Homo sapiens: one gene and its partners. The protein of the gene in region 4 interacts with the protein of the main gene of each other region in a pairwise test. Each region holds a gene or a part of one and is shown on either strand. Other genes may lie near its edges. The genes, in order: SSC5D, SAPCD2, YAE1 and EXOC7.

What was found.
Region 1: the proteins of EXOC7 (region 4) and SSC5D interact in binary tests that used the Homo sapiens proteins (3 or more experiments, as listed by UniProt).
Region 2: the proteins of EXOC7 (region 4) and SAPCD2 interact in binary tests that used the Homo sapiens proteins (3 or more experiments, as listed by UniProt).
Region 3: the proteins of EXOC7 (region 4) and YAE1 interact in binary tests that used the Homo sapiens proteins (3 or more experiments, as listed by UniProt).

The regions. Positions count from the first base shown.
Region 1 is NC_000019.10:55,483,538-55,491,450, forward strand, and holds the start of SSC5D (soluble scavenger receptor cysteine-rich domain-containing protein SSC5D isoform 1 precursor), read left to right. Parts: upstream 1-4,898; 5' UTR 4,899-5,052; coding exon 5,053-5,077; intron 5,078-5,468; coding exon 5,469-5,495; intron 5,496-5,816; coding exon 5,817-6,125; intron 6,126-6,344; coding exon 6,345-6,458; intron 6,459-6,760; coding exon 6,761-6,871; intron 6,872-7,234; coding exon 7,235-7,543; intron 7,544-7,913. Other genes in the region: ZNF628 (zinc finger protein 628), read left to right, coding at 1-836; NAT14 (probable N-acetyltransferase 14), read left to right, coding at 2,172-2,243, 2,871-3,419.
Region 2 is NC_000009.12:137,061,625-137,067,574, forward strand, and holds the end of SAPCD2 (suppressor APC domain-containing protein 2), read right to left. Parts: intron 4,751-5,950; coding exon 4,638-4,750; intron 4,045-4,637; coding exon 3,898-4,044; intron 3,562-3,897; coding exon 3,454-3,561; intron 3,356-3,453; coding exon 3,239-3,355; intron 3,164-3,238; coding exon 3,035-3,163; 3' UTR 503-3,034; downstream 1-502. UniProt on the Homo sapiens protein: Plays a role in planar mitotic spindle orientation in retinal progenitor cells (RPCs) and promotes the production of symmetric terminal divisions. Negatively regulates the mitotic apical cortex localization of GPSM2.
Region 3 is NC_000007.14:39,561,566-39,569,413, forward strand, and holds the start of YAE1 (protein YAE1 homolog), read left to right. Parts: upstream 1-4,838; 5' UTR 4,839-4,853; coding exon 4,854-4,982; intron 4,983-7,848. UniProt on the Homo sapiens protein: The complex LTO1:YAE1 functions as a target specific adapter that probably recruits apo-ABCE1 to the cytosolic iron-sulfur protein assembly (CIA) complex machinery. May be required for biogenesis of the large ribosomal subunit and initiation of translation.
Region 4 is NC_000017.11:76,100,780-76,108,561, reverse strand, and holds the start of EXOC7 (exocyst complex component 7), read left to right. Parts: upstream 1-4,774; 5' UTR 4,775-4,869; coding exon 4,870-4,929; intron 4,930-4,990; exon of another isoform or gene 4,991-5,135; coding exon 5,136-5,201; intron 5,202-6,698; coding exon 6,699-6,883; intron 6,884-7,185; coding exon 7,186-7,291; coding exon of another isoform or gene 7,292-7,354; exon of another isoform or gene 7,355-7,551; intron 7,552-7,782. UniProt on the Homo sapiens protein: Component of the exocyst complex involved in the docking of exocytic vesicles with fusion sites on the plasma membrane.

The DNA of each region.
Region 1 (7,913 bases), on a different chromosome or scaffold from region 4:
TAGGGGTGCAGGGAGCGGCCAGCGCTGGGGCCAGCGGGACAGGGCAGAGCCTCATCGTTCTGCAGAATGTGGGGGGTGGGGAGGCAGGGCCACAGGAAATGAGTGGGGTGCAGCTCCAGCCCCTCCGACCAGCCCCAGAAGTAACCACGGTCCAGCTCCAGCCAGCGCAGGAGGTGACCACAGTCCAGCTCCAGCCAGCACAGGAAGTAACCACGGTCCAGCTCCAGCCAGCACAGGAGGTGACCACGGTCCAGCTCCAGCCCGTGGCCGGCCAGCTCTCCAATTCCAGTGGGGGAGCTGTGGCTACTGAGGCACCCAACCTGCTGGTTGTTCAGAGCGGGGCAGCTGAGGAGTTGCTCACTGGCCCGGGCCCCGGGGAGGCGGGGGATGGCGAGGCCAGCACTGGTGTGGTCCAGGATGTCCTCTTTGAGACACTCCAGACGGACGAGGGCTTGCAGAGCGTGCTGGTGCTGAGCGGGGCCGATGGCGAACAGACTCGACTCTGCGTACAGGAGGTAGAAACACTTCCTCCTGGGCTGACGGAGCCGCCTGCCACCGGCCCACCCGGACAGAAACTCCTCATCATCCGCAGCGCCCCAGCCACTGAGCTGCTGGACAGCAGCAACACTGGAGGAGGCACCGCCACGCTGCAGCTCCTGGCCCCACCGCCGTCAGGCCCAGCCTCGGGCCCCGCGGGGCTCCCCGGGGCTCCAGCCTCCCAGATGGTGCAAGTGGTCCCCGCAGGAGCTGGGCCTGGTGTTATGACCCCTCAGGGCCTGCCCTCCATCCAGATTGTCCAGACTCTACCCGCAGTCCAGCTGGTGCACACGTTTTGAGGAGAGGCAGTGATTCCCCTCCCGCCCCGCACAGAGACCCCGACTCACTGCCAGCCGGGGCGGGGCAGGGTGCCGCAGGCTGGGCTTGCTAATAAAGACCCGAGTCTCCCCGCCTGTGTTTTGTTTTCCTGGGGGGAGGGAAGGGGGCAAAGTCATGGTCCTAGCCCCCGCCTGGGAGCGTGGAGTCTTAAGTCTTGCGTCCTGGGTCGCAGATGGCTTGTTCTGCATCCTGGGGCCAGCCACTACGTAGGGCTCAGTTCCCCTGTCCTGAAACCAAAAAAGGCCGCAGGGGTCATTATAGTGGGGAGGTGGTGACATCAGACTCCAGGGAGTGCTACTTGTTCACTGTAGGTCGCCCCGCTGCCCCCCTCGTGTGAGAAGTAGGGGGATCCTTATGCGGAAGGGTTCTGCGACCCCGGGCGCCCCGTGGGTGGAGTGGGGTCCCTGGGGATGGGGGAGTCGGGCGCCAGGATGCTGAGCGTGGCCGGCTCCTCCCGCGAAGGCCCCGGCACGGATGAGAATCCACGCGCTGGCGTCGCCGCCCGGCGCTCAGGTTGCTCAGCAACGAGGGAACGTGGGGCGGGAGCTCGCGCTGGTCCCCAGCCCGCCGCCCGTCTCCTGCCGGCTTCCGCTCCCGTTCTTCCCCAGGTCCCCTTTCCCCGTTGCTCCTTCTCTAGGGATAGGAGAGGTCGCTTCCCGGCCCTCCGCAGGGTCACAGCTCGGTTCCTCCCAGCCCGCCCTCCGGGGAGCTTAGCAACGGTTGCTACGGCCCGGAGCGGGCGCCGCCCCGCCCCACCGCGCGCGGTCTGACGTCACTTCCGCCCGCGACCCCCTTCCAGACCCGCTCCCGAAACCTTGTCGAAGGACCAAAGGCGACCGGTGCAGGTGCTTGCTGGTCCTTGTTCTTGTGGCGCGGGACGGGGACGACTGTGGGGGAGGGGGCGCTGGGGACCGGGGTGGAGCGAGCGTGGTCCGTTCTCTGGCATGTGGGGAGGGTGTTCGTGGACCCCAGTGCCTGGGAGGGAGCCCCGTGCTGCAGTGTTGGCGTCCGCAGCGCGTTTGGGAGTGTAGATCGCTGAATAATACGGGGGAGGGGGGATCCCGGGAGACTTTAGCAAGGTCGCTGAGTATTGTGGGGGGCGCCTGTCCTGCCGAGATCCTCGCTTGGGGGCCCCGAGGGTTCTCAGTGTCCTGATCTGGGAAGTGCCGTTGCTGCTCCCTACCCCTCGGGGGAGCTTTGGGGACAGAGGTGCCCCCCTGACGCTGACCTACTTATGTTCTCACCAGGTGCACGACGCCAGCTCCCTTCTGGGGGGCCGGGGCCTGGGGGTTGCCATGGCCCCCAGCCACCTGTCAGTGCGGGAGATGAGGGAAGATGAGAAGCCCCTGGTGCTGGAGATGCTGAAGGTGAGAGGCAGGGGCCCCAGGGGGCCTGGGAGTGGCTGCAGTGGGGGAATTGCAAGTGGATTCAGCCACCCCCTCCCACCCACCTGAGCCAGCCTGGACCCCTGGAGCGGGATCTTTTCCTCCTGAGCCTCAGCCGCCCTGCTGCTGAAAACCACAGCAGGTGTGGCAGGTGGGGGCTCACCCCCCCAGCCCTACTGGGACCCCAGCACCAACGCCCTCCCTGGTCTCCCATCTCCAGTCGGCTGTGCACGCCAGCACAACAGCCAGCTCTGTGCCTCGGACCCCAACTCTTCAAAGCACAGCCCAGCACCCCAACCTAGCCCAGCAGCCTCCCTCCAGCCTCCACTCCAGCCTGAGGCAACCTCCCTGTCCTTACTTCCCTGGGGCCTCACTGCGGCATTGCTACTGAATTGAGTGCCCCCACAGCTCCTAATTCACTCATCCATCCATCATTCGCTCTCGTTCATTCATTCACTCCATACCCAGTGTGCCACACTGAACATCGGACTGTGCTGCCTTCCCTTCCCATTTGGGAGCTCTCACCCCGCCCCGGGCAGGGTCTACCTCCTCTCTTTGTCCAGGAGGCCCTAGCGTTTCGGATGGCTGAGCCACCCCTCCTGCCCACAGGCCGGCGTGAAGGACACGGAAAACCGCGTGGCCCTCCATGCCTTGACACGGCCGCCGGCCCTGCTCCTCCTGGCGGCGGCCAGCAGCGGCCTGCGCTTTGTCCTGGCTTCCTTCGCCCTGGCCCTCCTCCTGCCGGTGTTCCTGGCTGTGGCCGCCGTGAAGCTGGGCCTGCGGGCCCGATGGGGCTCGCTGCCTCCGCCGGGTGGCCTGGGGGGCCCCTGGGTGGCCGTGCGGGGCTCCGGTGACGTGTGTGGGGTCCTGGCTCTGGCCCCTGGCACAAATGCAGGGGACGGGGCCCGGGTCACCCGCCTGTCTGTCTCTCGCTGGCACCGCCGCCGGGGCGTGGGCAGGAGGCTGCTGGCCTTCGCGGAGGCCCGGGCTCGGGCCTGGGCTGGGGGCATGGGGGAGCCCCGGGCCCGGCTCGTGGTCCCCGTGGCTGTGGCCGCCTGGGGGGTGGGAGGGATGCTGGAGGGCTGTGGCTACCAGGCCGAGGGGGGCTGGGGCTGCCTGGGCTACACGCTGGTGAGGGAATTCAGCAAAGACCTGTGAAGCTACAGACTGACAGCCAGGGCAGGGGAGGAGGGAGGGGCGCCAGCACCTGATGATCGCCTACTGTCTGCGGGTTCTTTTACCTGCTCTCCCTCAGTGAGTCCTCAACCACCCTGGGCCCAGAAACAGAGGCCTGCCGAGGGGAGGAGCCTGGCCTCTGTCCACCCGTCAGCAGTGTGAAGTCTGTTGTGTTTGAGCTTCTCAGAGTGGAATGACTCCTTTTCCTTCCTGGCCCTCGGGGGCCTCTCGAGGTCAGCCTCTCCAACCCCTACCTCAGCTCCTGTCTGCACTGAGAAACCTCCCCGGGTGATGTCTGCAAAGTCTGTGCTGTCCGTGCCCCAGGCTGGGAGAGCTATCTGGGGAGGGGGAGAGGAGGCCGAGCAGAATACACCCCAGAGTTAGGGTTTGCGACTCCGCCTCCCTGGGACCTGGATTGGGTCAGATGCCTGTCCTTGGAGGGGACAAGGTTGACTGCTTAGGAGGCGCGACGCACAGGGCTGCCAGGCCTGGCCCCTCTCTGGGAAGGTTGAGAGCTGAGACGGGCAGCCCTGTCCCTTCCTCCAGATCCGTCTGGTTTTTTACACCGTTTGTTAATAAAGCCTGAAACCGCTGTGTGCCTGTCTCTTCTCTGATGGCTTTCCCAGTCTGTCTCCGGACACCCCCGCCCATTTCTGTCTGGCTTCTCCTTTCCCCAGTTAACATTAATTGTTGGGGGACGGTGCTGGACTGGGAGAAGGGGAGGCTGTGAGCTCAGGGGCAGCCCGAGGCCCTGCCAGCCCTTCTGAGTCACGCTCCCCATTACCGAATTTTTTCCGCCTCACAGCTGCCTGGTGTGCAGGCAGTGGGGTGTGTGTGTGTGTGTGTGAGTGTGTGGAAGAGTGTGTGGAGCCCCTCCCCTTCCCAAGCCTTGACCCTTGTGCTGCTTATCCCCCGACCCCAGCTCCCTCTGGGACAGTGAAGTTCAACCTCTCCTCTCTCAGCTGGGGACTGGGGGCTTCACACTCAGATCCACCAGTGAGTGGGAGGACTGGAGGGCCGGGTCTTTCAGTCTCTTTTCCTAACCCAGGAAGTCCCTCCTGGTGTCTGGCTGCAAATCTTCTTGCTGCTGCACCAAGAACCCCAGGTCTGCCCAGCCCCCAACCCTAGCAGTGGTCTCACTGGATTTCCCTGACCAGACAAGAGGGGAGACAGCAGGTGGGCGCCCCTCCCGCTCATGCTGCGCCCCCCCCGCACACGTCCCCCAACCCCTGTCCTGTGCCTTCCTGCAGCCGGCCACCCCCTAAGCATCTCTGGGCACAGCACTTTGCTGGCTGGAGCCTGCCTGGCCGTCGTCTCCATCTCCCGTGTGGGTGTCTGCAGTTGGACACCCTCCCTCCCGCCCGCCACCCCCCTCCCCCCCATGCCTCAGCAGACGGCCAGCCCCCTCCCGCCCCCCCTCCCCCCCACCGTCCCCTGCCGCCTCCCTGCAGCCTCTTTCTTCCTCCTGGCAAAGCGTCCAGCCCTGCCTGCTCCTCCTCGGGCCTGGGCGCCTCCAGCAGGCACTTCCCTCCCTCCCTCTCTCCCCAGCTGCCTCCTCCTCTTCTCTCCCCGCTCTCCTTCCCCTTTCACCCCATCCCCTGCCCTGGCTGCAACCATGAGGGTCTTGGCCTGCCTCCTTGGTGAGTGATCCATTCTCCTTGGGGACTCGGGGGGCCTAGGCCCCCACCTCTGACCCCTTAGCTTGTCCAGTTTAGGGACTCAAACTTCCGGGACTGGTCGCTGGTGCTCCTGCATACCCTGACATCCCTTCTGAGGATCCCTGCTCAATCTGCCCAGCCTTCTGCCAGCCCAGAAGCCCAAGGGACCTGCCCCCTGCCCGCCCCCCAGCCCTGACCCTGCGGGGGATCTCCCAGACATCTGACCTTTAGCCAAGCCCATGTGTGTGTGTGTGTGTGTGTGTGTGTGTGTGTGTGTGTGTGTTGGGGTATTCAAGATGAGGGGCCTGCGCTGGAGAAAGGGCCACCCCCGGCCTGCCCCTCACACTGCCCCACCCTCCGCCCTCCCTTCCAGCGGCCCTGGTGGGGATCCAGGCTGTTGGTAAGTGCCCAGACTCCTCCCATCTGCCCGCCCCCCCCCCCAGGCCTCCCCCTTCTGCCCATCCAGGCCTGGCCTCACCCCCACTGGGTCCCCGGCCCATCCGAATTCCACTGTGACCTTGGCCCCAGCTCCGCAAGGGAATCCCCCAGGTGTCTGGCCGCATCTCTCTGAGCACCCAGGAGTCTGGGCCCAGGGGCCAGTGAGCAGGGCCACTGGCCTACAGACAGTACCTGCAGGACAGCCACCTGCCCCTACAGTTGCCCTGGCCTTGGGGCCCCCAGGATGCCCCTCCCCAGTCACAGCCATTCCTCCAACCCTCAGAGCGCCTGCGCCTGGCCGATGGCCCCCATGGGTGCGCTGGCCGCCTGGAGGTCTGGCATGGCGGGCGCTGGGGCACCGTGTGTGATGACGGCTGGGACCTGCGCGATGCCGCCGTGGCCTGCCGGCAGCTGGGCTGCGGAGGGGCACTGGCCGCCCCGGGAGGCGCCTTCTTCGGGGAGGGGGCAGGGCCTGTGTGGCTCAGCGAGCTGGCTTGCCGGGGCAACGAGGGGCAGCTGGGCCTCTGCCACCACCGGGGCTGGAAGGCCCACATCTGCTCCCACGAGGAGGACGCGGGCGTCGTCTGCGCAGGTGAGGACACCCTGGCTGCTCCTTCAGGGGGAGCTCCTTTGGAGATGACCCAGGAACCCCAAGTCCTTAGCCCCAGCAAGTCTGAGTGTTCAGCAGTTCAGAGACACCCAACCTCCCATCCCCTCCAAAGCCAGGTGGCTAACTCCCTCTTCCAGGGACCCAAATGGCCTGGATTCCCCTCCTCTCCTCATAGCTTCTGTCCCTGCCCCCCCGCCGCAGGTCAGCGTGTGGCTAACTCCAGGGACGACTCAACATCTCCCCTGGATGGGGCTCCCTGGCCAGGGCTGTTGCTGGAGCTGAGCCCCAGCACGGAGGAGCCCCTGGTGACACATGGTGAGCCCAGGGGACTGCCCTGCCAACCCCCACCCAGCGTGCCCTCCTGCCCCCCCCGAGGGGAGAGGGACTGCCCTGCCAACCCCCACCCAGCGTGCCCTCCTGCCCCCACCGAGGGGAGAGGGACCTCTGCAGTATGAACTCCCAGGGGACACACAGCCCGCCCCCTGCCCCGCCCCGTCTCCTTCATAGCCTAGGGAGTCCTCCATCACTTCAGACCCTCAGAGACGGAGGCCTGGGCCCCCAGGTGGGAGGAAGGATGAGGGGCTCAGCTCCTGACCCCTGGCTGTCTCCACTCCCAGCCCCCCGCCCAGCTGGGAACCCCCAGAACGCCTCCCGGAAGAAGAGCCCCCGGCCCAAGCAGGCCAAGTCCACCCGGGCCCCTCTGCTGACGACAGGAGCCCCCCGCCAAGGTAAGCTCCCTGCAGGCTCCCCCGACCCCAAGGCTGGTTGCTGTGAGGCCCAGGGCCCAGAAAAACTGAGGACCTGCGGGCGCCCTCTCCTTAGCCGGGGCCCTGGAGGGATCCCAGTGTTCCCCGCGTCCCTCCCCCGGGGATTTAGACGGCCAGGCCTGGTCTCCCCTCTTCTTCCTGCCCTGTCAGGAGGCCCAGGTGTCCTGGCCCGCTCAGGTCGTGGACTCACCTCTTCACGGGCTGCCGGCGGACAGATCTCAGGCCACCGCTCCCTCAGGCCTGTTTCCCCAGGTGGAAATCGAGGAAGGGGTGTTTGAATCATTTCTCACTGGCCACACCGTCCCCTCCCTGCTCACCCCACAGAGCGGCTGCGCCTGGTCTCTGGCCCCCACAGGTGCGCCGGACGCCTGGAGGTCTGGCACGGCGGGCGCTGGGGCACCGTATGTGACGATGGCTGGGACCTGCGCGACGCTGCTGTAGCCTGCCGGGAACTGGGCTGTGGGGGGGCGCTGGCTGCCCCCGGCGGTGCCAGATTCGGGCCTGGTGCAGGGCCCGTGTGGATGGACGATGTGGGGTGTGGAGGAGGAGAACAGGCCCTCCGAGACTGCCCCCGAAGCCCCTGGGGCCGGAGCAACTGTGACCACAGCGAGGATGCGGGGCTGGTCTGCACCGGTACGTCGGGCTGGGGCCTGGCCCCCTCCTGTCTTCCTCAGACCCCAGCTCCCTCTTGCCCCTCCAGGAAGCTGCAGCGGGCCTGCTCCCAGCTCTGCCTCCTGCCCGCCTGCTCTCTGCATGCCCAGCGCCCACTCACCACGCTCTCCAGCCCCTCCTTCCACAGCTCCTGCCGTTCTCCTTGCCAGGAATGGGAGGAGCAGGCTTGAGGCTTGGGCTAGTGCTCAGCCCTGTCCCGGGGCCTAGGCCAGTGACCGTTTGTTTAAGCCTCAGTTTTCCTGAAGGAGCGATGGAGCTAAGAATGCCTGCCTCAGGCTTGAGCCAAGTCCTGGAACGCAAGAAGCCCTGCCTGCCCTCTGCCACCGGGCTG
Region 2 (5,950 bases), on a different chromosome or scaffold from region 4:
GTAGAGTCAGGGTTTTGCCGTATTGCCCAGGCTGACCTCAAACTCCTGGGCTGAAGCAACCCTCCCGCCTCTGCCTCACAAAAGGCTGGGATTACTGGTGTGAGCCACTGCACCCGACCGATACATGTTTATTTTATTAATATTATTTTTTTGAGACGGAGTCTCATTCTGTAGCCCAGGCTGGAGTGCAGTGGTGCCATCTCAGCTCACTGCAATCTCTGCCTCCTGGGTTCAAGCAATTCTCCTGCCTCAGCCTCCCGAGTAGCTGGGACTACAGGCGCCCGACACCACGCCTGGCTAATTTTTGTATTTTTAGTAGAGACGGGGTTTTACCATGTTGGCCAGGCTGGTCTCAAACTCCTGGCCTCGGGTGATCCACCCACCTCGGCCTCCCAAAGTGCTGGGACCACAAGCATGAGCCACTGCGCCCGGCCTAGTCTTCTTTATAGCATTAAGAGATCATGCTTTTCATGGAGTAAGGAACTATAAATACCACTCCTTGTTCATGTTTCCAGAAATCTCTTTTATTTCTTTAGATATATAAAACACTGTTACTTTATATTCTCTCTGATAATTCTAGTATCTGGGTCTAGAGTCAATCTGTTGCTTCTGCTGGGTCTCATAGTGTATTGTTTCCTTGTGGTGTTTATGAATTTTTAAACCTGGATCTCTCATTTTCTTTCTTTCTTTTTTTTTTTTGTAGAGATGGGGTCTCTCACTGCGTTGCCCAGGCTGCTCTGGAACTCCTGGCCTCAAGTGCTGGGATTCCAGGCGTGAACCACCACGCCCGGCTGAGATGTTCCTTTTCCTTGGAACTTGATCAACACAAAATCCTGAGGCCTGGTGTGGGTGTGTTCCTCTGGGGCAGATTCTCAACTGGGGACACTTCTGCCCCCAAGGACACATTTCAACATCCTGAGACATTTCCGGGTGTCATCACAGTGTGCACGCACGTGTATGTACCTGCACACGCTACTGGCACCTCGCGGATAGAGCCCAGGGACGCTGCTCACATCCTGCACGGAGACTGACCCGCCCAGCGTCCTAGGGCAGGCTCCAGGCAGGGTCTGCATGTGCCTCTGCCAGCCACCTAGACCCTGCCAGCCGGGGCCTTTAAATTCTCCCCTCGTGGTCTCCAGGGCCACTCACTAGCCTGATTTCAAGCTGTAAACTGGGAGGACCTATTTCTTTTCACCTTGCACGGAACACCAAGGCTGAAAGGCAGTTTTTCCGGAGGTGCCAGCCTGTCTCACATTTCCGCTTCAGCTGCGGGGTCCAGCTCTATGTGGGCGGTCTCCTGATGAAGTCACCCCGGGACAGACACTGTTCTGTCTCCTGCTTCCAGTCCAGTAAAGATGCCAGGATCCCCCAGGGCATGGCAGGCACCCTCAAAGGCAGACGTGGGGAGGCCCTGGTGGGCAGACCCCAGCCTGCTGACGGGGGGCTTCTCCCTGGCTGCCACTGGCCCACCCACTGCGCTGCAGTCCACCTGGTGCTGGGGCTGTGGGGCACAGGCCCTCAGGACCTGCACCCTTTCCTGCCCAGGAGGTCCAGGCCTGACATCCTTATGTCCCCTGGAAAGCCCACTCCCATCTTCAGGGTAGGAGGGCAGCTGCATGCTGGGCTGACTTGGGCCTGTCCTGGGACACCCCTGCAGACCAGGTGCAGCAGGGAATGTGGCTCTGTGGGGTTGCTGTGGGCAGGTTAGCATGGAGCTGGGCTCCGGAAGGGAGTTGCCACGCTGCCTGCCAGGGCCCCTCCTCTGAGACAGGTGCCTTGTGGGACAGTGTACCAAAGTGCCCTGGACACGAGGGGGCCCTGCGCCCCCCACGCACTGACCCCGCATCGGAGGCCCTGCGCCCCACACACACTGACCCCGCATCGGCATCGGGGGCCCTGCGCCCCCCACGCACTGACCCCGCATCGGGGGCCCTGGGCTGCAGAACCCATCGATGCTGTTGCCGTGCCCCTGGTTCTGGTGACACTGGGACCCTCCAGGTTGGGCTGAGCAGGGCCCCCCCACCAGTGCGTACTCCAGCACCAGCGGGAGTGGGCCTGGGCAGGGGCTGAGGGAGTGACACCCAAGGGGACCTGCCCCAGCCTCCTCCTGTACCCTGGGGGTTCTCGTTTTCCTTGGCTGAGGGAGGTGGCCTCTCCCAGCTGAAACCTGGGGACAGGCTGGGCGTGAGAGCAAAGGGGGGTGAGCAGGACCCCAGGCCTTGGAAATCCTGAGTCGGGGGAACAGGCTTTGCCTATGACGTGCCTGGGAGCTGTCTGGGGGCCCTCCTGGGGAGCCAGGCTCACAGGATGTTGTGTGGGACTCAACGTGGGGCAACGTCCCGGCCAAGAGGGGGAAGGCCATCACCCCAGGGTCTGTGGGAGGCACATGCAGGCCAAGCTCTCGCCCACCCGGCGTGCCGATCCGCTGCAGCCAGGGTCCCTCAGCCTTGGCCAGAACCTGAAGTCCGACCGCTATCCCTGGGGCTCCCCAGCCAGGCAGGCACCCCCCGCTTACAGGCCGTCCCCACCCCCTCCATCTACTTCCGTCCGTCCGAGCTACAGCCACCTCGTCCTGGTGCCCTGGTTGAGCGGGAAGCTGCCCTTGGACCCGCGTCGGAGCCGCCCCGCGCCCTCTGCTGCCCGTTGTTGGAAGTGCAGCCTGGCGTGGGCAGTGCCTTTCCCTGAAGATGGGACCCAGGGCGGCACCGCTGGAAACGGGGGGACGCTAACTCATGGAGGGGTACCCCACTGTCCACTGACAGCGGCAGTAGTAGCTGCGGACTATGCGGACTCAAGAGAGCCCCAGCCCATGTCAGCACCAGGAGCCAAAACGGAGTCAAGCGCTCGGTGCGGGGACCAGCCGGGGGCAGGCCTGGGGAGCCCATCTGGCAAGGGCGGCAGGAAGGCGCCCACTCCGGGACTGTGCCTGGGCCTGCCGGGGGTCTCCAGCCAGAGAGGGTGGGTGCGATGGGGCGCCCACCCTCGAAGGGCTGAGTGCCAGGCTGGCCCTGGGGGCCCACGCGGCCCACAAGGACTAGATGAAGGTGGAATCCAGAGGTCCCCCGTCCTGCTGGCTCAGGGCGCGGGCCTCAAACAGCTGCTTAATGAGCGCCGACTTCTCCTGCTCCAGCTGCGTGATGCGCTCACTCTTCTCGGTCACCTCCTGGGCAGGTGCACAGTTGGTCAAGGCCTGCGGGGCCTCACCCCCACCCCTGCACCCCTCCCGCGCCTGCCCTACCTGGGTGAGGAGTCGGTTCTGCTCCTTCAGCATGAGGATGGTCTGCTGCTGCCAGACCGGGGGTGAGGTGGACGTCAGGGCAGGGCAGGGGGGCCCGGAGGAGGACGGGGGCAGGGCCTGCGGGAGGGCAGGATTAGGCAGGCCTGGACGAGGGCGGGGAAGCACTAAACTGGCCTGGGCCCCAGCGTGGGTGTGGGGGTTTGGGGTACACTCACCCGGCTGGCACAGGCTGCAGCCAGCAGCTCCCCCAGGCACCGGGCCACCTCTTGTACCTTGGGCAGTAGCCGCCCCAGTGGGCGGGGGCTCCCTGCAGCCCCAAAGTCCTGGGAAGAAAGCAGAGGACAAGCGGTCAGAGAGGAGGTCCAGCCGGGGCCAGCAAGGTGCCTTGATAGGGGTTCCCACAGGTGGCTCTCCTGCCTCCTGATGCTGCAGAGAGCCTAGAGGGTCCCAGGGGCATTGCTGAGGTGGGAGGTCTGCCCAAGACACCTTAGGCCCTAGGAGTGGGGCAGCCACAGGCGGAGAAAGGGATGTCTCAGCATCCTGGGTGGAATCGACAGCCACTGTGTCCGGGAATAGGGGCAGCCACAATGCCCAAGGGTGCCTGGGGTGAGCTGGGGTCCCCATGTGTGGGGATCTGGGGACAGGGCTGTGGCACTCACGGCGCTGGCTCTGCTCTGGCCCAGGCGGCGCTGGCGCTCCTGCACTCGTTGCAGCTGCTGCTGGTACCAGTCGCGGCCCCGCGCCATCATCTCCAAACCCTGCAGCAGCACCTCCTTCTCCTGCTCCAGCTCCTTCATCTGCTTCAGCTGCAATACGTGCATTTACATGGAATGCCTGGCCCCAGTGAGCACGCACACGTCCACACATGCATGAGCTCACCTGTGGGTGGGCACCAGAGCCACAGACACAAATGCAGCAGCACGTGTACACGTTTGCAAACACCCACGGACGCACGCTTCTGCTGACACCTGCATGTGTGAGCCCCATAGGCCCATTTGGAGCAGGAGCCCCGTTCCTCCTGCTGAGGGGTCTTGGCCTTTCTTAGCCCCTCCACTCAGGCTTCCCTGGGGGAGGGGTGACGGACCCTTCAGCTGAGCCCACCCTCCCGAAGTCTGCCTGTGGTGAGCACACAGCTGGGAAGCCAGACTGGCTTGCAGCAGCAACCTCGTGAGGCGGGCTGGGCAGCCACCATAGCTGCCCTAAACGACCTCTTGACCTCCCTCTGCCTGACCCTGGGCCATCCCTCCAGGGGAGTCAAGCCCAGGTAGGGAGAGAGATGTCCAGAGCTGACTGTACTTCCGCCATGGACTCCCCCAGGCTCAAGGCCCCCCTGCTCCCATCCCGGCCTCCAGCCTCCAGGCAAGATGGAGAGCCCCACAGAGCCCCAGTCCCTGCTCACCAGGCCGCAGTCCACGCCGCTGGCGATGGTGTGCCTCCGACGTTCCCCTCGGGCACGGGGAGCCCGCCGGGCATCCCCTGAGTCCGCCTCCAGGGCCCTGCACGCCACTGCACCTGTTATGGAGAGGCATGGGCCTGGCTCACCTCCAGACCTGCCTGGCCAGGCTCTGCTGAGGTGCAGCGGCCTCCACATCTCAGCCCACCCTCGAGGTCTCGGGCACCAGCCTGGCATGGCCCACGTGTAGCCTCTGTGCCAGGCTGGAGTTTGGTCCCTCTCCCCTTTCCAGCTCCTCACACTGGCTTGGGGAGGGCTGTGCCGCCAAGCCCGCATGTTTGCTCAAACACACACCCTGCCCCCTCATCGGTCCGTGAGCTCTCTGGGGCCAGAGGCCTTATCCAGCTCTCTTCTGCACACCCAGTGCCCAGAACATGGCAGGCACACCCTGGGTCTCCAAGGCAGCTGGGTAAGGGAGGAGTGGGCGGGGGGGTTCTGGTCCTGACTACGCCTCTCCCATCTGCACGGGGTCCTGCAAGGCAGCAGGAGATGTGGGTGTGAATGACGGAAACCTAACTTTTCCCAGGATGGTGACTCTGATAGAAAGTTAGTCCCGCATGGCCGGGCACAGTGGCTCACGCCTGTAATCCCAGCACTTTTGGGGACCAAGGCGGGTGGATCGCTTGAGCTCAGGAGTTTGAGACCAGCCTGGGCAACATGGCAAAACCCCATTTCTTCCTTTTTTTCTTGAGACGTTGTTTTGTTCCTGTTGCCCAGGCTGGAGTGCAATGGTATGATCTTGGCTCACTGCAACCTCCGCCTCCCAGGTTCAAGTGATTCTCCGGTCTCAGCCTCCCGAGTAGCTGGGATTACAGACACCCACTACCATGCCCAGCTACTTTTTGTATTTTTTAGTAGAGATGAGGTTTCACCATGTTGACCAGGCTGGTCCTGAACTCCTGACCTCAGGTGATCCACCCACCTCAGCCTCCCAAAGTGCTGGAATTACAGGCGTGAGCCACTGTGCCCGGCCGGCAATACCCCATTTCTATTAGAAACACAAAAATTAGCCTGGTGCAGTGGCATGCACCTGTGGTCCCGGCTACTCAGGAGCCTGAGGCAGGAGGATTGCTTGAGCCTGGGAGGCAGAGGTTCCACTGAGCCCAGATTGCGCCACTGCACTCCAGGCTGGGCAACACAGCAAAACTTTGTCTCAAAAAAAAAAAAGATCCCTTGCCGGGCACGGTGGCTCACACCTGTAATCCCAGCACTTTGGGAAGCTGGGGCGGGGGGGGATCAGTTGAGGTCAGGAGTTCAAG
Region 3 (7,848 bases), on a different chromosome or scaffold from region 4:
CCAGAATATACAAAGAACCTTTAAACACAATAAGAAAACAACCTAATTTTTTATAGACAAAGATTTCATTTAAAAAATATACAAATTGGCCAGGCGCGGTGGCTCATGCCTGTAATCCCAGCACGTTGAGAGGCCGAGGCGGGTGGATCATCTGAGGTCAGGAGTTCAAGACCAGCCTGGCCAATATGGTGAAACCTCATCTCTGCTAAAAATACAAAAATTAGCCGGGCATGGTAGCAGGCGCCTGTAATCTCAGCTTCTCGGGAGGCTGAGGCAGGAGAATCGCTTGAACCTGAAAAGCAGGGGTTGCAGTGAGCCGAGATTACGCCACTGCACTCCAGACTGGGAAAGAGAGCAAGACTCCATCTCCAAAAAAAAAGAAATACATATACAAATAACAAATAAGCACATGAAAATGTGTTCAATATCATAAGTCATCTGGAAAATGCAAATTAAAGCCACAGTAATAGATACTACTACACACTCATTAGAATAGCTAATGTTAAAAATACTGTCAATTCCAAGTGAGGCAGAGGATGTGGATCAACTGACACTCAAACATTGATGGTGGAAGTGTAAAGTGGTACTATCTCTTTGGAAACACAGCTTACAGTTTCTTATTGTATTAGTCCATTCTCATGCTGCCACAGAGGACCGCTCCAGACTGGCTAATTTATAAAGGAAAAAAAGTTTAATTGACTCACAGTTCCGCAGGGCTGGGGAGGCCTCAGGAAACTTAAAATCATGGTGGAAGGGGAAGCAAACACATCCCTCTTCACATGACGTCAGGAAGGAGAAGTGCCAAGCAAGAGGGGGAAAAGGCCCTTATAAAACCATCAGATCTCATGAGAACTCACTCACCATGACAAGAACAGCAGCATGAGGGTAACTGCCCCTATGATCCAATTAACTCCCACCAGGTCCCTCTCATGACACGTGGGGATTGTGAACTACAATTCAAGATGAGATGAGATTTCGGCGGGGACACAGCCAAACCATACCACTTGTTTTTTTGTTTTTTTTTCTTTTGAGACAGAGTCTCGCTCTGTCGCCCAGGCTAGAGTGCACTGGTGCGATCTCAGCTCACTGCAACCTCCACCTCCCAGGTTCAAGCGATTCTCCTGACTCAGCCTCCTGAGTAGCTGGGATTACAGGCGTGTGCCACCACGCTCAGCTAATTTTTGTATTTTTAGTAGAGATGGGGTTTCACCATGTTGGTCAGGCTGGTCTCAAACTCCTGATCTCATGATCTGCCCGCCTCGGCCTCCCAAAGTGCTGGGATTACAGGTGTGAGCCACCGTGCCCGGCCCATACCACTTATAATGTTAAATGTATACTTACTATATGACCAGCAATTCCACTTCTAGATATTTACCCAAGAGAAATGAAAACGTGTACACAAAATGGCATGTACAAAAATGTCCACAGCAGCTTTATTCATAATAGCCAAAAACTGGAAACAATCCAAATGTCCAAAAATGACTACATGAACAAATCATGGTATAGCCCTATAATGAAAATAGTACTTAGCAATAAAATAGATCAATCTACTGGTACATGCAACCAAATAAATGAATCTCAAAAACATGTTGAGTCAAAGAAGCCAAATATATTAAAGGACATATACAATTCCATTTCTATGAAATTCTAAACTGGCAAAACTAATCTAGTGATAAAAATTGGATCAAGGGTTGCCAGGGATGAGAGACTGACCACAAAGGAGCACGAGGAAATTCTCTGGGGTGATGGAAATTTTCTATATCTTCATAGGTGGTGTTTACACTCAAAATGTATGCATGTTACTGCATGATTTTAAAAATGTGTTCCTGACATTTACAAATATAGTACTAAATAAACACTAAATACTAAACAAACATGTCATTACTATATTTAATAATATTTGTTGGTATTTCAAGTGGAATATTTATCTCATTTACATTTCTAGATGATTATTACTAGAAGAGGCTATTGGTGTGTTTATTTTTCTTATATTCACAGACTTTATCAAATTTCTTTATTCTGTTATTTTTTAAGCAAAGTCTTTTGGGTTTTCTAGGTATATAATCATATAATGACCAAAAGGAATATCTTAGGCTGGGCATGGTGGTTCATGCCTATAATCACAGCACTTTGAAAGGCTGAGGCAGAAGGATCACTTAAGGCCAGGAGTTCAAAACCAGCCTGGGCAACAAAGCGAGACCCCCGTCTCTACTAAAAATAATTTAAAAATTAGCTGGGCATTGTGGTGCGTGCCTGTAGTCCCAACTACCTGGGAAACTGAGGCAGGAGGATTGCTTGAACCCAGGTGTTTGAGGTTGCAGTGAGCTATGATTGCACCACTGCATTCCAGCTTTGGTGGCAGAACAAGATCCCGTCTCATTTTTTAAAAAGGAATATCTTCATCTTTTATTATCCAACATTTATACATGTTATTTTGTTTACTTCTCTTATTGCAAGTGCTAGTGTGCTAGTCTCTAAAAGAATATTAAGTAATAATAGTGACTACCAGATGCCCTCTCCTTTCTATATGTTAAAGGAAATATCTGAACATCTAAGTGTTTAAAATACTACTCGTTGGAATTTTTGTAAAGTCTTTACCAATTTGTAGTTTCTATTTCTACTTTATTTTGTTAGAAATGATTTTTAAATTTTTTCAAATAACTTTTTAGCATTTATTAATATAACATGTTTTTTCCCTTTTATATTGTTGATGCAGGCTAGGCACAGTGGCTCATGCCTGTAATCCCAGCACTTTGGGAGGCTGACACAGGAGGATAGCTTGAGCTCAGAAGTTGGAGACCAGCCTAGGCAACATAGTGAGACTCCTGTCTCTACAAAAAAATCAAAAAATTAGCCAGGTGCAGTGGTACATGCCTGTAGTCCTAGCTACTCAAGAGGTTGAGGCAGGAGGATAGCTCAAGCCCAGGAGATCAAGGATGCAGTGAGTTGTGATCTCACCACTGCACTCCAGCCTGGGTGACAGAGCAAGACGCTGTTTTAAAAAAAAAAAAAATAGTCAATGCAATGAAATATTATTGATGTCCTAATATTGCAAAAGTTTGCTTTCCTGGTACAAAACCTCTTAAATTATTCTTTTGATAAAGTACTACCAGGTTGGTGCAAAAGTAAACCCCAATTAATTTTGCACCAACCTACTAGATTCTCTTTTGGATATATATTCACAAGCTAACTTGAACTTTGGGGTTTTTCTGGTACTATCTTTATGAAGTTACAGTAAGGCTGGCTTCATGAAATGATTTAAGGAGTTTCTTCTTTTTCTCTCCCCTAAAATGGTAAAAATAGTTTAAGACTCCATCATTCCTTAAAGATTGCAAAGGACTTAATGTGAAACTCCCAAGTCTCCATGACATTTTTAATAGTAGATATTTAATGTCCAATTTTTCTATGGTAATTAGTCTCTTCATGACCCTACTTCTTGGGTCAATTTTCTTAGAAAGTCATTCATATCTCTCAGGTTTTCGAATGTGTTGCTTTTGAGTTTTAGTTGGTAATTAATATTTTAATCTCCTTCTGCATCAGTGGTTATCTCATTTCTCATTCTTGTATAATTTTGTTCTCTTTAAAAATCTGGGTCATGACAGGATTATCTATCTTATTGGTGTTTTCAAATAATACAAAAAAGAATTGGACTTACTTATTCAAGTTTTGAGGTTTTCTATTTTATTGTTATCTTTATTGCTTACTACCATTTTGTTCCTAATAAAGATATATACATATATCTTAATATATTTACATTAATAAAATATACATATTTGTAGTTTATATATTTTTTATTTGTGGGATGCCAAATTCTCTCTGGAGATTTAAAATTGTAACATGAACCAACCACCCACTCCCACACACTTATGGTTCTTACTGTGCTTATTTAAAAATTTTTTTCATAGCATTTATTTATGATCTTCTAACAAACCTTATGCTACTTATATATTGCTTATTGTTTATCCTGTCAATTTTACATGACTATAAAGTCGACAAGGGTTGGGAACTTCCGTCTGTTCATTGATGTATCCCAAAGCCTGGAATGGTACCTGACACAAGGTAGGTGTTCAATAAATTGTTAGATAAATAAATCATAATCACATGACTCATTTTACCCAGGCAAAGGGCAAAACAGGAATACTACAGGTATTCATTCATTCACCAAAATAGAGTTCAGCATTTACTATGTGTCAGAACTGTCCTGGTGTTGACACAAGTCCCCACCCTTACCAAACCAACTGTTTACTTTAGGGCATATGAACAGGAATGGGAGGCAGAAGGATATCGTGAATCAATGAAAAAATATATTGGCTTTACAAATGTACTCTATATTTCTTACTAATCTCAAATTGGCTACAGTACCTCGCTTTTCGATCCTATTTTCCTTTACTCCACAATCCTAACAGTTTAAAATGTCGGCTTGTCAAATCCTTTAAATGCAGAGGAGATTCCAAAAGAGACAAAGTATTTGGGTGGTAATCGCCCATCGACTTTACTACCTTTAATAGTTTACCAAAGCGCGCGAATGTAAAACCCAGACCATGGTAAGACTACGGTGGAAATGGAAGGTGTCTCACTGAGGGTCCCGGTTGCCTTCTGCAAAGGTGAAGGTCGTGCCGGCCACGCGAGGAAATCTGCCTCGCTCACAACTCACAGGCACACATCAACACTGCCAACCGAGGGAGCCCAAAATCACCGCAAGCGAAAGGCTCCGGCGGCGGCCACGGGCCACAGCCCGCCTCCGCGCACACGCAGCCCCTCCCGAGCCTCCACTCGCCGTCTTCGCCCCGCCTTCGGACCGGAAGGAGTTGTTGGCGCTTCCGGTGGCCTGCGACCCCGTAATTGCCTCGGTGATGTCGTGGGTTCAAGCAGCCTCCTTGATCCAGGGCCCTGGAGACAAAGGGGACGTGTTTGACGAAGAAGCAGACGAGTCGCTCCTGGCGCAGCGGGAATGGCAGAGTAACATGCAAAGACGAGTCAAAGTAAACGTGGTGTGGACGGCGCGGGGTGCTGGGTTGTGGGAAGAGGCGCGGAGTTGTGAAGAAGCTGGGTCCAGAGTGGCCCCAGCCTGGCCCGGCGCTGCTCTCTTTATCCCTAGGGACCCGGTCCGACCCGCGTCTTGCTAGGATTTCTCGATGGTTACTTGAAAGCGTGTAAAACAACAAGACGCATTCTTTGAGCGCCTACGGGATGCGTTAGAAACTGAGGACCGACCAAAATTAACTATGTGTAGACTTTGAACAGTTTGCAGTTTGTTGAGGATCACAGGGAAAGGAGCTGGAGAGAAACATACACTATACTTATTATGGCTGTCAAAGGACGTGTACGCAGTTTATATGGGTGGCTTGAATGGGTAGGGAGCCTAAAGTTAAGGAGTAGTGTTAATCAAGACATATTGAAAAGATGAACTAAAGCATGCTGTCAGAGGACAATAAGGGAAAGCTAATGTGGAATACTGGTGTCTAGGTAAGGGAATATTAAAGTTGGTTTCTTTTTTATTTGTTAGATGTAACTTTTTCATCTCTAATTTGTCTCACTATTCATTGAAACTAAGCTTAATTTCTGTGTGCAGCCTACAGTATTTCTGGGTGAGGACCAAATAGTGAGGTCCACATCCACTTAATATATTTGCCAACCATTAAATTGCCGCTAAAGCTGCAGTTGGGAATCTGCCCTGTTTAATATTTCAGTAGAGTGGTATTTGCTTAGCCCAAAAACCATGTTGTCAATTACAAAAATGCTTTATGTGAGACTGGGGCCACACTAATAAGTATTGAGCATCTTTTAAATGCTGTGGCACCGTGAGAGATGCAGAACGAAATCACTACCCACAGAGCTTTTGCAGGTTAGTTGAATTTAGGTATTATGCAAAATTTCTGAAACCAGACTTCTCATCATCCTTTTTTTTTTAAACAATTTCCTCTCTCTGCTTTGCCCTGTCTCCTCACCCACCCACACCATTCCAATCAGTTGGCAAGAGCCCAGATGTGTAATTTTCCATATATCCTTTTTGTGAAGACATTGCTAATGCTGGGTTTTGTTTTTTGTTTTTTGGTTTTTTTAATCTTTTGAAGTGATTAGAAAAGTTTATTTTGTGCTTAGGATATTTTTCTAAGGCATCACAGGTTACACATCCAAACTCTTCAATGGTATAATATTTTATATTCTAAAGGAGAGACCTTTAAAGAAAACTTGTACATTATGCTACTATAAGTCTAGTGGATTCTCCTATCCGCAGAGCCTAGAAAGAAGGGGACATTACAGAAATTGTCTACTACATAATGGTCAGTTGATTCATTGTATTTATGGTTTTCCCCCTTCTTGTAAGGTGAAAACTATGTATGCCCTTTAAGGAGTATGCTCTTTAAGGAGTAAAAATACACTAAGTGTACCATCCTGTTGATTTCTACCTGTAAGATACCACACAATATTAGCAGTTAGGAAAGAACAGGAAAATATGAAGTTTGTATCTTAAAATATAAAAATGTGTGGCGAAACCCCATCTCTACTAAAAATACAAAAATTAGCCGGGTATAGTGGCGTGCACCTATAGTCCCAGCTACTTGGGAGGCTGAGGCAGAAGAATCACTTGAATCCGGGAGGCAGAGGTTGCAGTGAGCTGAGGTCATGCCACTGCACTCCAGCCTGGGTGACAGAGCGCGACTCCATCTCAAAAAATAATGATAATAATAAATATATATATATATAGTTAATGATTTTGAAACATCAAGCATTACAGACTGTAAAATTAATTAAGAACTTTCTGTATATGATGCCAAAGATACATTTAAAACATATACAAGAAGATGCTTTTTCCTGAGTAGAATGCAAACTTTGTTTTATATTAACCTTCTGTGAATTTTCAAAATGTAAAATACCAGGACTTTTCCACATCAGACAAAAATCAGGAATGTTCACCTTCACATCCAAAAAGAAAAATTTTAAAAGACAATTTCAAGTAGTTCAGCAAGAATGATTTAAAATCTGAAATGAATGGCCAAAATTTTAAATTATCAACAGACAGTTCAATTTGATGGATCTCTCAGTAAACTTCAGTTTGAAACAACAACAAAAAATGCTGTTTACTAAATCATAAAAGATAATTCCAGGATATTATCCAATTTGAAAAATAAAAAATGTAACCCGTAATAAATAAGAAAAATACAAGAGAAAATCAACCTTTATTGGAATCGAGAGAATACCATGGACTTTAAAACTTCCTAAATCAGTAGCTTATCCTATATTACCATGTGTAGAAAACTGCAACTAATTAATGTAAGGTAGTTTTTATTAGTTGCATAACTTAAAAATATGAGGAAATTTTGGAATATATCTCTAAAACCACGGAATTGTCACTGAAATATATATTTCTTGAGACAGTGGGCAAAGTTCCCATTTATGGGAAATACTTTCCTTTTTTCACACACATGAAACTGAGAAAAATTATATCAAATGAGAAATATTTTTCTCTAAAATAATCTTAAGTACCCCAATAATGCAATACTGGGGAAATGTAAATTTTCAAAACTCAGATTTGAAACAGGTTATTATTAAACAAATATACATAAATCTTATTGTTTGGCAAGATTTTTCAAAAATTAGAGAACTAGTTAAACCACCATACTGTCCTTAAATCATATTTCAAACTTACATACCTAGTGCTTTTATGTTCTGAATGTAGAGTCTTCAATTTAATGACAATCTAGACTGAATGCTGTAATATACAAGCAAGTCACAGTTCACTTCAAACCAAAAGAAATAATCAGTCTTCTGTTTTTATCAAAATCATGATATTAAGATAACTATACAATTTATCTGTGACCAGTGATGGACCCAGAGAGTGTTGTG
Region 4 (7,782 bases):
GCAGGCGGATCACCTGAGGTCGGGAGTTCGAGACCAGCCTGATCAACATGGAAAAACCCCATCTCTACTAAAAATACAAAATTAGCCGGGTGTGGTGGCTCACGCCTGTAATCCCAGCTACTCAGTAGGCTGAGGCAGGAGAATCGCTTGAACCCGGGAGGCAGAGGTTGTGATGAGCCAAGATCTCGTCATTGCACTCCAGCCTGGGCAACAACAGTGAAACTCCATCTAAAAAAAAAAAAAATTATCTAGCCAGGCATGGGGGTGAGCACCTGTAATCCCAGCTACAGGAGGCTGAGGTGGGAAGATCACTTGAGCCCAGGAGATGAGACCAGCCTGGGCAGCATAGAGAGATTTTATCCTTAAGAGACTAATAATAATTAATTAAAAATAAATTTTAAGGCCAGGCACAGTGGCTCACACCTGTAATCCCAGCACTTTGGGAGGCCGAGGCGGGTGGACCACCTGAGGTCAGGAGTTTGTGACCAGCCTAGCCAACCTGGTGAAGCCCCATCTCCTCTACTAAAAATACAAAAAGTTAGCTGGGCGTGGTGACGGGTGCCTGTAATCCCAGCTACTCGGGAGGCTGAGGCAGGAGAATCACTTGAACCCGGGAGGCAGAGGTTGCAGTAAGCCGAGATCGTGCCATTATACTCCAGCCTGGGTGACAAAGTGAGACTCCGTCTCAAAAAGAAAAAATTTTTAAATAAATAAAATAAAATAATAAATTATAAAGATACATACGTTTTGATTTAGCAATTCAACTCTTGGAATGTGTCCGGCATATAGATGTCTATACAAAGGTGGTCACGTACAGGACACGTATATATGTATATTTTCTACCCCAAGGGGGCAGAATTTGCAATAGCAAGAAACCTGGAAACAACTTAAGTGTCCATTAATAGATAACTGGTCCAATCTATTATATCCATTCAGTGAAATACTATACAAAGAATGGAGCTGCCCGCCTTGGCCTCCCAAAGTGCTGGGATTACAAGTGTGAGCCACCATGCCTGGACAGCATTTTATTTTATTATTAATTTATTTAGATGGAGTCTCGCCCTGTCACCCAGGCTGGAGTGCAGCGGCGCAATCTCGGCTCACTGCAACCTCCACCTCCCGGGTTCAAGCGATTCTCCTGTCCAGGCTTCTCAAAGTGCTGGGATTACAAACATGAGCCACTGTGCCCGGCCAGAAGCAGATTTTTTTTTTTTTTTTTTTTGAGACAGAGTCTTGCTCTGTCACCCAGGCTGGAGTACAGTGGCATAATCTCAGCTCACTGCAACCTCTGCCTTCCTCGTTCAAGCAATTCTCTGCCTCAGCCTCCCAAGTAGCTGGGATTACAGGTACCCACCATGCCTGGCTAATTTTTGTATTTTTAGTAGAGACAGGGTTTCACCATATTGGCCAGGCTGGTCTTGAACTTCTGACCTCGTGATCCACCCGCCTTGGCCTCCCAAAGTGTTGGGATTACAGGCGTGAGCCAACACGCCTGACTCAGAAGCATTTTAATAGAAAGGTAATTTAAACTATTTTTAGAAACTAGAAAAAAAGAATCCTCCATCTGTTCTACTTACCCTTTAGTATTTTGTGGTGTTTTCCTGTAGTCATTTTTTGCAATGCATCTGTTATATGTTAAATGGTTGTAATCTCGATATATACTATTATGACCTGCTTTTCTGGTTATGTCATAGCATATACATTTGCAATATGGTTACAGGGCCAGGAAACATTAATTTGGAGGAATTATATACATCTGATTCCTCAGACAGAGCATGAAGTCTAAAATTAGGAAGTTATGAAACTGAAGAACACATTTGTGGGGTGGGGAGGCCCTTCCTTCCTTCTGTCCTTTCCTACCTTCCTTCCTTCTTACCTCCTTTCCTCCCTCTGGAAAGATCATCTCTGCAAGTGGGAAGTGGGGGCCACGACTATGGCTGGCACCTTGGTGTTCTGCACAAGTTTGTGGATGTGAGACCTAAGATTTCTGAGACTGCAGCTAAAGCACCACTTGTTCCTTTCGCTAAAGTAGCTCGTGTTGAGTATAGTTAGGAAATTATAGTTTTAGCTGAATCAATACCTATTTGTTGTCAACCCAAGGTTGATAATAGGTTGAGAATAATTTAAATTCATTTTTTCATTCTGTCTACTCTTAGTAAATATAGTTGTCTTGAATACAACATGCTTTTCACAATGAATTTTTTTGAAAATCAGATTGGCAGCTTTGCATAACAAACACCACTCCTGAGCTGCCCAGCATGGGGAGAAAGAAGAGACCGCCTGAGCCTCACCCTTTGCTGGCCAGCTGTGTTGACTTACTACAGCTGACTTCTCTGAGCCGGAGCTTCCTCGTCTGCACAAGGGAGACGACAGCTGGGCCTGACTCCCAGGTTTATGATAAGGATTAGAGGAGCATTAGCAAGGGCAATGTTTGTAGTAGAGACAGGCAAACAGAAGACTCTCAGTACATGGTATTGTACTAATGGTATCTAACCCCATTAGACTCAGACACTGAAGGAAATGCAGTAAAGCACACACAGCTGATTGACAAAAATGCAATGACATTGTACAGATTTGAAAATATTAGCTTCCTCACGCACATAAAGGATTCCCAAGACCTATGGAGCAAAAAAAAAACAAAATTTTTTTTTTGCTTGAGATGGAGTCTTGCTCTGTTGCCCAGGCTGGAGTGCAATGGCACCATCTCGGCTCACCGCAACCTTTGCCTCCTGGGTTCAAGCAATTCTGCCTCAGCCTCCCGAGTAGCTGGGACTACAGGTGCACACCACCACACCCAGCTAATTTTTGTATTTTTAGTAGAGATGGGGTTTCACTATGTTGGCCAGGCTGGTCTCGAACTCCTGACCTCGTGATCCACCCGCCTCGGCCTCCCAAAGTGCTGGGATTACAGGCATGAGCCACCACACCTGGCCGGAGCAAAATATTTATTATCAGTATTTTTATTAAGCATCTACTATGGGCCAGGAACTGTTTAGAGACTCAGGCCAAGCACGGTGGCTCACACCTGTAATCCCAGCACTTTGGGAGGCCGAGGCGGGCGGATCAACTGAGGTTGGGAGTTCAAGACTAGCCTGACCAACATGGAGAAACCCCATCTCTACTAAAAATACAAAATTAGCCAGGGTGGTGGCCCATGCCTGTAATCCCAGCTACTCGAGAGGCTGAGGCAGGAGAATCGCTTGAACCCGGGAGGCAGAAGTTGCAGTGAGGCGAGATCACGCCATTGCACTCGAGCCTGGGCAACACAGCAAGACTCCGTCTCAAGAAAAAAAAAAGAGAGAGAGAGAGAGACTCAGGTTAAATGCTGGACCAGGCCCTCAAAGGTAGTCCACCTGAGCCCAAAACACCCTCTCTACAGCGGCTAACTAGCCCCGCTACTCTATTCTGTGACATCTAACAGTTTAAACTTTCTCCTACTTAGCCCTTTGGACTACACAAGGACCATGTCAGCGAAATCATCCTGGGTATTTCCTGACACAGGAATCAGCCTTTTATCTCCCCCACCTACAACAGGATTGAAATTGTCCTCTTGCCTGAGGGAAGGCTGCCCATCCCTCTCCAGGCTCTGTGCACCCACTTCCTCCTCCTCCTCCTCTTCGGGTGACTATGGGTGGAGTGAGCGCTTGGGAACCCTAGAGCTTGGGTTCTTCCTTCTCTCCTTCTCTCCTTAGGCCGGGAGCAGGGGCTCACGCCTGTAATCTCAGGACTTTGGAAGGCCAAGGCGGGTGGATCACTTGAGGTCAGGAGTTCGAGACTAGCCTGGGCAACATGGCGAAACCCTGTCTCTACTAATAATACAAAAAAATTAGCCGGGCGTGTTGGCAGCCGCCTGTAATCCCAGCTACTCGGGACGCTGAGGCACGAGAATCACTTGAACCCGGGAGGCAGAGACTGCAATGAGCCAAGATCGTGCCACTTGCACTCCAGCCTGGGCGACAGAGTGAGACTCTCTCTCAAAAGAAAAGAAAGGAAAAAAAAAGCTTGGTGTCCCCCCTGCCCGCCCCAAACCTTCTCATCTACCAGCACATGCCTCCTTGTCTATCTTCCGGGTGTCTGGACACTGAGGCCACAGAAGGACTGAACCAAGCTGGTCGGCCTTGTCCTTTCTCAAGGCTGGGGGCCAGAGGCAGGGTGGGCAGGGACGGGTTAGAGGAAGGAGTAACTCGAGGTTTTGCAGGAGCTGGGTCTGCAACCACAACATCCAGCCCCGCAGGGAAGTTGATCCAGGGGCGCCCCCCACCCCGTCCCCTGGAGCTGCAGTTGGACGCTGGGTCTGGGCCTGGAGCTCCGGAGCAGCCCCGCCAGCCCACAGGATACGTTTTTGCGTAATGCAGGGTGGAAGGCGGAAACAAGTACACAAGCCCCTGGTTCATTACATGGACACACGTTAGGCATCTACTGTGTCACCTGCTCCGTGCGGGGCTTTGTGGGAAACGCAATTGGCCTTGGTGCCTGCCCATAGAATGCGACCTGGGGAAAGGAATTCGTCGCCTTCCCCAGCAGTCTTTATCAAAAGGGTCGGTCTTTCAACGAAAACAGCAAGTGAGCTCTAAGTGTCCTGCCAGCCGCGGGACATAAGGCCGATCGAAAACCTCTGCTGAGGCAAGGAACCCGCGTCGAGGTCCCTTGCAGCATCCGAATACACTTCTCTTCCCAGCCACGCTCAAAATGGCCGTCGGTCCGTTCTTGGGCTCCGCGCAGGCGCACTTCAGCCTGCGATTCCCAACATGGCTCCGCCCAGGCGTCCCGGGGCGGGACCAAGAGCGGAAGTGGGTGTGACGGGGACGGGGGCCCGGTGGGCCCGCGGAGGAAAGATACTGGGGAGTGGGAGCCGCGGGGTTCAGAGCGATGATTCCCCCACAGGAGGCATCCGCTCGACGGCGGGAGATTGAGGACAAGCTGAAGCAGGTGGGCGTGGGCCTGGGGAGGCTGGGGAGGAGGTGAGGGAAAGGGGCCAACAGCGGGGCCTGATTGTCTACTCATGGAGGAGGCAGGGGTGGGAGGGAGCGCACCCAGCGAGGAGATGGGGTTGGGGGCTAGGCCGTGGGGTTGGGACGCAGTGGTCTCCTTTAGCTTCTGGTTTCTGGTGATGTCCTCCCCTTGCCTGCCCCCAGGAGGAGGAGACTCTGTCCTTCATCCGAGACAGCCTGGAGAAGAGCGACCAGCTCACTAAGAACATGGTGAGTCTCCCCGCAGCTGGGGGAGAGGGCAGGCCTCCGGACCCTGGGGGAGAGCCTTGCGACCTGGCGGTTCCGGTTCCTGCGGCCTGGAGTTCTGGAATGGGCAGCGACGGAGGCAGTGTGTGGGTTTATCTAGCAACAGTTTGGCATCTCTCCTGCCTAGCCCCCTCCCCATGTTCCGTACCCTCACTGAGGAGGCTGCACTTCCCACTGGCCTGGACTTGCTGCTTTCTGTCTAAGCTCGCCATTCTTCCTTCTCTCCTTCTGCAAACACTCAGTGAGTCTGACCAGTTGGGCTAGGTACTGGGCATATGTCATTGTCAGTGGACTCTCTGCCCAGGAGGTTGGCACTTTGAGATTCCTGAGGGCAGAGAAGACTCAGCCTTCACTCCAGAGGACTTTAGGGAAAGAAAGAGCTCTAAAGTCAGGCAGATCTGGGATCTAGTCCTTGCCCTTCTGCTTAAATGTGCGGCTCCTGATAGGTAACTGGTGTCAGCGAATTCATCTGCTAAAACAGAGACTGTGCCAGCCTCCCAGTGTGTCTGTGAAGGTCATATGCGCTAATGCATGCGACTGCATCTTGCACAGTGCCTGGTATACAATAGGTGCTCAATAAGTGAGTTTCCTTCTTTATTCCTAGGGGAGACTGGAAAAGCACAAAGTGAGTAAATACAAACTTGTATTTGCATTTAGTCACACAATAATAAAGTCCTAGTCCTTTTCTAAAAATTTTAATTTTTAAATTTTTTTTTTTAGAGGCAGAGTCTGGCTGTGTTGTGCAGGCTAGAGTGCAGTGGCATGACTGTAGCTCACTGCAGTCTCTAACTCCTGGGCTCAGGCAGTCCTCCTGCCTCGGCCTCCTAGCAGCTGGGACTGTAGGCACACACCACCACGCCTTGCTAATTGTGTGTGTGTGTGTGTGTGTGTGTGTGTGTGTGTGTGTCTGTGTGTGTAGACAGGGTCTCACTGTGTTGTCCAGGCTTGTCTTGAACTCCTAGTCTCAAGCTAACCTCCCGCCTCAGCCTCCCAAATTCTGGGTATTACAGGCATGAACCATCACGCCCAGCCTCTAGTCCTTATTCAATGAGTTTCATCCTTAGAGAGGGTTTTGAAGATACAGCAATGCATTTGAGGCTACTCTGTATGAAACTACTTCCAGTCCGGTTTAGGAATGCTTCAGAGAGAACAGAAGTTGAGATTTGGCTTCAAAGGGTGGAAGGGAAGCCATCTTGGGCTGATTATTTTAAGAAGAATTAATTTGATGCTTGGTTTGCCTTCAAATAAAATTTCAACCAATTTGTCTTAGACCACCTACTATATGCCAGGCACATGATAGGTGCTGAAGATACAGTGGGGAACAGGTACACCCTGTTCCTTCGCTTGTGGAGTTTATTGTCTAGAAAACCAGAGAAAAGGCAGGAAATGCCGAAGGTGGGTGTGTAGAAGCAGTGCTGGGACCACTGTGAGTCCCAAGATCAAGAGGCTTCCCTCCCGCAGGTGTCTATCTTATCATCCTTTGAGAGCCGCCTTATGAAGCTGGAGAACTCCATCATCCCTGTGCACAAGCAGACGGAGAATCTGCAGCGGCTGCAGGAGAATGTTGAGAAGACGCTGTCCTGCCTGGACCATGTCATCAGCTACTACCATGTGGCCAGTGACACTGAGAAGATCATCAGAGAGGGGTGAGTGAGTGAGGCCCAGAGGGTCAATTCCTAATGCCTCCTGGGCCAACAGGAGGGTTGGTCTGTAATCCCAACAATTTGGGAGGCTGAGGTGGGAGGATCGCTTGAGACTAGGAGTTCAAGACCAGTCTGGACAACACAGTGAGACGCCTTTTAAGCCCTAGGCCTTAAAAGGCAGTGGGGGGATAGAATATATTTGAGCCTGGAGTCCCCTGTATTAATTTTCTTTTTCCCAAATACTGTGTCCTTAGTCCTTCTTCATCCCCCATGCCCCAGCCTGACCTGGCTCTTTTCTTTCCCAGCCCCACAGGTAGGCTGGAAGAGTACCTGGGAAGCATGGCCAAGATTCAGAAGGCAGTGGAGTATTTCCAGGACAACAGCCCAGACAGCCCGGAACTCAACAAAGTGGTAAGGGGTCCGCAGAATAACGTGAGAAGCTTGGGGATATCAGTCTCTGCCCTGGTCTCATGAGGGACATGGAGCCAGCTTGAGGATGTATGCAGTAGAATACACAGAAGGATATAGCACAGTACATCCTATAGGCATTAGGATCTCTGCTTCAAGAATTGCACATTTTTTATTATTAAAAATTCTTTATTATAAAACTTGTTAATGTATTATAAAAATTAAATTATAAATTACATATAAAATATAAACTTAACATTTGATTTGTTGTTGTTGTTGTTGTTGTTGTTGTTTTTTCCTGAGACAGAGTCTTGCTCTGTCACCCAAGCTGGAGTACAGTGCTCAGCTCACTGCAACCTCTGCCTCCCAGGTCCATGTGATTCTCCCACCTCAGCCTCCCAAGTAGCTGGGATTACAGGCACTCGCCACCGCACCTGGCTAATTTTTGTATTTTTAGTAGAGACGGGGTTTCGCCATGTTGGCCAGACTGGTCT